Linked DNA regions of Homo sapiens. The protein of the gene in region 1 interacts with the protein of each later gene in a biochemical or structural test. Each region holds a gene or a part of one and is shown on either strand. Other genes may lie near its edges. The genes, in order: BST2 and LILRA4.

Region 1 (3,911 bases):
TGGTCTCCCTGCCCCCACCCCCTCTTCCATACCTGACTCACCCCTCCCCGGCCCTCTCCCTTCTCCCTTTCTCACCCTCAAGCTCCTCCACTTTCTTTTGTCCTTGGGCCTTCTCTGCATCCAGGGAAGCCATTAGGGCCATCTAAGAAGAGTTAGAATCTGGGGTTTTGGCCTGGGGAGTTTGGCTGCTGCCCCTGGGACCTGGGCCTCCTCCCTAGGTCCTGGGGACAGAGGGGCTTAAATGCAAACCCCTTTCAGGTTTTCTTCCAACCCTCTCTGCACCATGGTCTCCAACCTTAAAGAACAGCCACAACCACACACTCTCCCAGGGCCACCCATAAGCATGTGGGTCCTCAAAATGGGAGTTTTGAGGCCACCCCACGTGGAAACTTGGAGGCTATCGATAACCAAAGTTTAGTGGACATTTCCAGATTGCCTGAGCAATGGCCCAAGAAAAGTTAGAGGGCCCTACCAAATCCAGAATGCAGTGGGATTTCCCCGCCCAAGTGACATGCCCAGCGAGAGTTTCAAGATCCCCCATATCAGGACCCAGGTGAATATTTCAGTTTCTTAGGGATGAAGTGAAAATTTCAAAAGCCCCCTTTTTCAGGGTCTGGTGAGGTCCCCCTTCAACCCTGAATAGGGATTTCTACTCCCCCAGGACTGGTGCCCACGAGGAGTTTCAAGGCCCCCGACACCAGTGCCCTGGAAAGAATTTATAAATTCACCTAAGTCCCAGGGGGATACTGAGGTCCCCGATTTGGGGGATCTGGAGAGTTTTAACACCCTGCCCCTACACCAGTGCCCTGGACTGGGTTAGGGGCCCACAAACCCTGGTAGGGGAACCTAGGTCCCTTGATGTGGGGGCCCAGGAGCAGTTTCAGGACCTCCCCTGCATCTCCCTGGAGACCCACCCTGGGTCAGATTTCTGGGGAGAGATTCTTGTCCCTCCCACCGCCTAGTACTAGGCCATCCAAAGGAGTTGAGGAGCTTACCACAGTGTGGTTGCAGGTGGCGGCCTGGGCCTCCACATCCTGAAAGCCCTTCTGGGCCTCGGTCAGCTCTTGTTGCAGGAGATGGGTGACATTGCGACACTCCATCACTGCCCGAAGGCCGTCCCGGCAGGCCTCGCTGTTGGCCTTGATGGTGAAGATAATCAAGGGCACCCCCAGAATCACGATGATCAGGAGCACCAGAATTCCTATCCCCAGCAGAAGCTTACAGCGCTTATCCCCGTCTTCCATGGGCACTCTGCAATAGTCATACGAAGTAGATGCCATCCAGATCTCCCCTTTAGAGTCTGGCCTGGAGTTAGGGGAGGGTGCTGGAATCTTCTACGGGCCACCCCTTTATTAGCATAGGAAACGTCCTGACCAATAGCAAGTTCCAGGAAGTGCTCTGACCAGCAGCTCTTGCATGAGGCACCTACAGGCAGAGGATTAATTAGGTTTTCAGTTTCAGTTTCCCAGAAAGGAGGTGGGCTTTTTTTTCACCCTGCTTTAAAAGCCCTTGGGCCCTTCCCAGCTGGGTGCCAGCCAACTGTGGCTGCCTGGGACACTCCATCTTAAGTCCCTGTGCCTCTGCTGTGTGTTACTGAGTGCCTAGGCCGTGCCAGCCTGTATTCATCTGTACTATGACCTGAAGAGGCAGAGGCCATCACTGTTGGTCCGGTCTCCACCTGGGGAAACTGAGGTTGCACAGTTGCGTGGTGGAGTGAGGGCAGGGCCTGGGTCTGGGGGCGGGGCCTGGGTCTGACCCCAGGGACTGGTTTTTGTGTTCAGGTGTCTCTGTGGTGACGAGCAGGGCTTCATCCAGTGCCTCTGTCCCCACCGAGGGGACTATGGGAGACATGGAGGGTGTGTGAGCAACAGGTGAGACTGGAGCCAGCTGAAAACTGGGAGACCGACCCAGCCAACAAACAATGTCGGTCTCTGTCTTGGCACCTGCAGGAAACAAGCTCCTACTTCCAGAAAAAGTGCTCCTGGGACTCCAGGATACCAGGTAAACTCTCTGAGCCTGTTTCTTCATCTGCAAAGGGGAATAACAGGGCCAGCCTCAGACACTGTCCATGTGGCCAAGAGAGCCAGGGCTTCCTACAGGAAATCAGGCCCATTATCGGCACCCAACTGCTGGGCATGACCGCTGAAAGGGGACTGCATGTTTTTCTTGTGGCTTCTTCAGCCACATCCTGACCACAGCCCAGATTCTGTTAGGTCTGCCATTTCCATGTTTTTTTTTCTTTTCAGCAGGGCCAGACAGTAGGCGAGGTCAAGTCCAGAGCCCAGGCCTCCCAGAAGGCCTGGGGAACTCCCCCCAGGCCCTGACTCCAACATCCCTCAGAAGGACCCCATTAAAGCCACTTAGAGCCAGGCATGGTGGTACATGCCTGTGGTCCCAGGCTGAGGCTGGGAGGCTGAGGCAGGAGGATCACTCGAGCCCAGGAGTTTGAGGCTGCAGCGAGCTATGATTGTGCCACGGCACTCAAGCCTGGGTGATAGAGTGGGATCCCATCTCTTAAACCAATAAACAAAAAAATCACTTAGAACCAAGAACCAATTAACAAGCTGTGGGAGATGATCTTGCTGAAAATTCTGAGGGTGAACTTGTCCCAGGAGGAGGGACCTACCAGCCTGGCCAGGACTCCAGGTGCAAAGACACGACCTTTGCCTGACTTATTTGACTAAGCTGACTTATTTGAGCAGCACTGTTCTGGCCTGCTAACTTTAGGGTTAGTTTGGGACCAGGTCGGAAATCACAATTGCATGAATTGCACATTGGAGGCCAGGGTGGTGCACCTCTGGGCAAATGAATTTCCTCTCTTAGCATTGATTTCCCCAGCTGTAAAATGTGGATAATAATAGATTGATGTCCTCTCTAAATTTTGCAGCTGTAAACAGTCCCAGCCCTGCAAACCGAAAGTTTGTTGCTCTTCCCTTTAAAATTACTGTAGGGACCAGCCCCACAGGGTCAGTGGGTCTCTCCCTGTGTGCGGCGACGAGAGAGTGTAGAAATAAAGACACAAGACGAAGAGATAAAAGAAAAGACAGCTGGGCCCGGGGGACCACTACCAGCAATGCGCGGAGACTGGTAGTGGCCCCGAATGTCTGGCTGTGCTGTTATTTATTGGATACAAAGCAAAAGGGGCAGGGTAAAGAGTGTGAGTCATCTCCAATGATAGGTAAGGTCACGTGGGTCACGTGTCCACTGGACAGGGGGCCCTTCCCTGCCTGGCAGCCGAGGCAGAGAGAGAGAGAGGGGACAGACAGAAAGACAGCTTATGCCATTATTTCTGCATATCAGAGACTTTTAGTACTTTCACTAAATGACTACTGCTATCTAGAAGGCAGAGCCAGGTGTACAGGATGGAACATGAAGGCGGACTAGGAGCGTGACCACTGAAGCACAGCATCACAGGGAGACGGTTAGGCTGCCAGATAACCGCGGGCGAGCCTGACTGATGTCAGGCCCTCCACAAGAGGTGGAGGAGCAGAGTCTTCTCCAAACTCCCCCAGGGAAAAGGAGCCTCCCTTTCCCGGTCTGCTAAGTAGTGGGTGTTGTTCCTTGACACTTTTCGCTACCGCTAGACCACTGTCCGCTCGGGCAACGGGCGTCTTCCCAGACGCTGGCGTCACCGCTAGACCAAGGAGCCCTTCTGCTGGCCCTGTCCGGGCATAACAGAAGGCTTGCACTCTTGTCTTCTGGTCACACCTCACTATGTCCCCTCAGCTCCTATCTCTGTATGGCCTGGTTTTTCCTAGGTTATGATTGTAGACCGAGGATTATTATACTATTGGGATAAAGAGTAATTACTACAAACTAATGATTAATGATATTCATATATCTCTAAGATCTATATTTGGTATAACTATTCTTGTTTTATATTTTATTATACTGGAACAGCTCGTGTCCTC
Region 2 (3,911 bases), about 37 Mb from region 1:
GCTGTGTTGATCCCGGTGGCCTCTGGGGGATGCTCGTTCAGGCTCAGCACAGCCAGAGAAGGCCCCAGACGGCTTCCCTCATGAAAACTCAAGTTGAGTGTGGATTTACTGCTTACAGTTTGCAGAACCTTGGAGAATCTGCAGAAAAAAACTGAGATAGGGCGGGAAGAATCTGGAGGAGCGGAGGCATGTTCCGGGTGAACAAGGTGCTGCTGCATTCAAGAGGACTATTATTTTTTTCAGGTACAGGGTGTGCAAGAACGAGTTAATCTCACAGCTGCAAGGGTGATAACGTTGGGAGAGTTTGCTTGTAAAGTTGGTCCTTAGCTGGCATCTAGTTCCTAAACATGGCTCCTGGAATGTTCCCTATGTTCCTAAGAGATAAGCTGGTGTTGTGTGACTGCAGCACTGAATTCTACTGTGTCTTGACTAGGCCATTTCCGCAAACAATGTAGCTCACTGTTGATGAGTTTGTAAAAAAAAAAAAATGCTGATGAACAGCAGCTTTTCCCTGGTTTCCCTGTGACTGACCATTATGCCTATATGGCCCCCACCTAATAACAACCTTGAACATTGAGTCTTAAGCAGGTTTGCCTGGAACCAACACTTCACATGCATTGCTACATTTTTTATGCTGATGGAATGATTAAGACAAGACATAGATTTTCACAGCTTATGACCAGCATTCTTGATCTTAAATATATTTTGGTAAAGTTTTTTTTTTCAAAAAGGTAAAAAAAAATTGCTCTTCTAGAAGGATAAAATGGACACAAGTTTTTATTTAGCTTACTATTAACGAGGGAACGGGAAAGATGTTAATACTGAATTCAAAGAAGAATCCATAGAGCAGACATTTAGGGGCTGGTAATGTTTAAGGGGATTCAAAAATGAGCCTAATTTTTGTTATTTTTAGTATAGAGACGGGGTTTCACCATGTTGGCCAGGCTGGTCTTGAACTCCTGACCTCAAGTGATCTGCCCGCCTGGGCCTCCCAAAGTGCTGGGATTACAGGTGCGAGCCACCGTGCCCGGCCATAGAATTGATTTTTAAGTGTGTTAATTCTACCTACTATTTTCACCACAGCCACATCTGCCTACATAATTTCTAGTTGTCTATCTCTTCTCAAATACACTGCATGCTGTCCATCTACCCCCATGCACATGATCTTACAAAGAACATTTCTCCCAGAGACGACTCAGAAATCAGGCCTGTCCAGAGCGGGTGGTTACAGCTGCTCCTGTCCAGGAGCATCAACTCTTCCAAACTTAGCATCTGCCCAAAGTTGTGGCTGGCAAGGCGGAGTCCAATGTGACCTCCCACTCACGTGTGGGACAGATGTCCAGGTGTGACAATACCACAGACAGCCTGTTTTTCACACACACACAGGGGAGATGGAGCCTCCTCCATGGGGAGGCTCTGAGAGGGAAGGAGGAACCATCAGTCCCTCTCACCTGGAAGGGGCTGAATCAAGAAGGCACCGGGTCTGTTTGCTGCTACATCCTGGCCCTTGGTGAGATGAGGACAGATTAGATAGACGCAGCCAAAGTGAGGGGAGAGCCCATTTCTGTCTGTAATATCTCTAGAGAGCCTGGTGTTCACGCCCAGGACAAGCCCTGGGGAAATGAGAGCCAAGCTCCTGGGGAGGGGCAGTTCCTCTTTCTGCCCCTCATGGCTCCCACAAGGAAGCAGAGAGATGGCAGTGCCCATGTGCAAACACAGAAGAGGGGCAGCCACAGCGTCTCACTTTCACCTGGAGCCCTAGGTTCCTCCCTGTCTGTGAGGACCCTGGACTTCCTTTTCTGTGCCACACAGAGATGGAAACGTCCTTTTTTTTTTTTTTTTTTGAGATAGAGTTTTGTTCTTGTTGCCCAGGCTGGAAGGCAATGGCGTGATCTCGGCTCACTGCAGCCTCTGCCTCCGGAGTTCAAGTGATTCTCCCGCCTTAGCCTCCCGAGTAGCTGGGATAACAGGCATGTGCCACCACGACCGGCTCATTTTTGTATTTTTAGTAGACACGGGGTTTTGCCATGTTGGCCAGGCTGGTCTCGAACTCCTGACCTCAAGTGATCCACCCACCTTGGCCTCCCAAAGTGCTGGGATGACAGCTGTGAGCCACAGCGCCCGGCCGAAAATGTCCTTCTTAACGACCCCCTTGTGAATCCCCATTTGTGTCTGAAATATCGGCAGAGAGCCTGGTGCTCACCCCCAGGACAAGCCCTGGGAAATGAGAGCCAGGGTCCTGGGGAGGGGCAGTTCCTCTTTCTGTCGGTGTGCTGATGGGACAACCTCGTGATGGGGAGGACCCAGCCTCCGTGTGCCCGCACACCATGTGTCTGTCTGTGTCTACGGGCACCGTGGCCACACCTGCCTGCACAGCCAGGGCCAGGAGGAGGAGATGCCATGACCCTCATTCTCACAAGCCTGCTCTTCTTTGGTGAGATCTTAAGAGGGGGAGGAGAGACCCTAGTCTAGGAGAGAGACCCCAATCCATAGCCATGCCTTAGTCAATTAGGGCATCCCAGGGGCTCAAGGAAAAGAAGAAGACCTGCTCAGGCTTCGGAGGCAAATCTCTCACAGGGAACTCTCTTCCAGGGCTGAGCCTGGGCCCCAGGACCCGGGTGCAGGCAGGTGAGTCTGTCCCCAGCTGTCCTAGGTCCCTCCTCCTCTCTGGGGACAAGGGACCACCCCTGGGCAGCTGGGGGTGAAGACAGCAGTTCTGGGCTGACTGATGGGGATGAGGGGGGTCCTGGGGCTGAGAGCTGGGATCTGAGGGTTGAGGACATCTTGGGACCTAACCTGTAATTTCCTTCCAGAAAACCTACTCAAACCCATCCTGTGGGCCGAGCCAGGTCCCGTGATCACCTGGCATAACCCCGTGACCATCTGGTGTCAGGGCACCCTGGAGGCCCAGGGGTACCGTCTGGATAAAGAGGGAAACTCAATGTCGAGGCACATATTAAAAACACTGGAGTCTGAAAACAAGGTCAAACTCTCCATCCCATCCATGATGTGGGAACATGCAGGGCGATATCACTGTTACTATCAGAGCCCTGCAGGCTGGTCAGAGCCCAGCGACCCCCTGGAGCTGGTGGTGACAGGTGAGAGGACACTCAGGGGTCCCAGCCCCAGGCTCTGCCCTCGGGAAGGGGGTCGGCTCTCAGCTCTCGAGGGGTCTCCCTTCTCACAGCCCAGCCTTGTAGGATAAGGTGGGAGGTGTGAGCCCCATTTAAACACGGCTGCCTTTTTTTCTCTTGAAAGCCTACAGCAGACCCACCCTGTCCGCACTGCCAAGCCCTGTGGTGACCTCAGGAGTGAACGTGACCCTCCGGTGTGCCTCACGGCTGGGACTGGGCAGGTTCACTCTGATTGAGGAAGGAGACCACAGGCTCTCCTGGACCCTGAACTCACACCAACACAACCATGGAAAGTTCCAGGCCCTGTTCCCCATGGGCCCCCTGACCTTCAGCAACAGGGGTACATTCAGATGCTACGGCTATGAAAACAACACCCCATACGTGTGGTCGGAACCCAGTGACCCCCTGCAGCTACTGGTGTCAGGTGAGGAAGCCGTAGCTTTTCCTTATACAAAGTCAGGGCACCAGGTGAGCTGTTGGGAGCCTTACCCTCGGGCTAGCCCACGCAAGAAGAAAAGATGAGGGGAAGATGGGGGCCCTGGGGACACAAATACAGAATGAGAAAAAAACAAGGACGCTGGAAACCCTAGTGAGGAAGGCTACAGAAGGAAGGGGCGCAGGAGGAACCAGCCGCTCCGAGTCCCAACTCATCTTTCCCTCCAGGCGTGTCTAGGAAGCCCTCCCTCCTGACCCTGCAGGGCCCTGTCGTGACCCCCGGAGAGAATCTGACCCTCCAGTGTGGCTCTGATGTCGGCTACATCAGATACACTCTGTACA

Evidence for each region.
Region 2: the proteins of BST2 (region 1) and LILRA4 form a complex in vitro, tested with the Homo sapiens proteins (2 studies listed by IntAct).

Annotation. Positions count from the first base shown.
Region 1 is NC_000019.10:17,404,296-17,408,206, forward strand, and holds the start of BST2 (bone marrow stromal antigen 2 precursor), read right to left. Parts: upstream 1,336-3,911; 5' UTR 1,281-1,335; coding exon 996-1,280; intron 143-995; coding exon 76-142; intron 1-75.
Region 2 is NC_000019.10:54,337,583-54,341,493, reverse strand, and holds the start of LILRA4 (leukocyte immunoglobulin-like receptor subfamily A member 4 precursor), read left to right. Parts: upstream 1-2,331; 5' UTR 2,332-2,400; coding exon 2,401-2,434; intron 2,435-2,592; coding exon 2,593-2,628; intron 2,629-2,813; coding exon 2,814-3,098; intron 3,099-3,258; coding exon 3,259-3,558; intron 3,559-3,797; coding exon 3,798-3,911.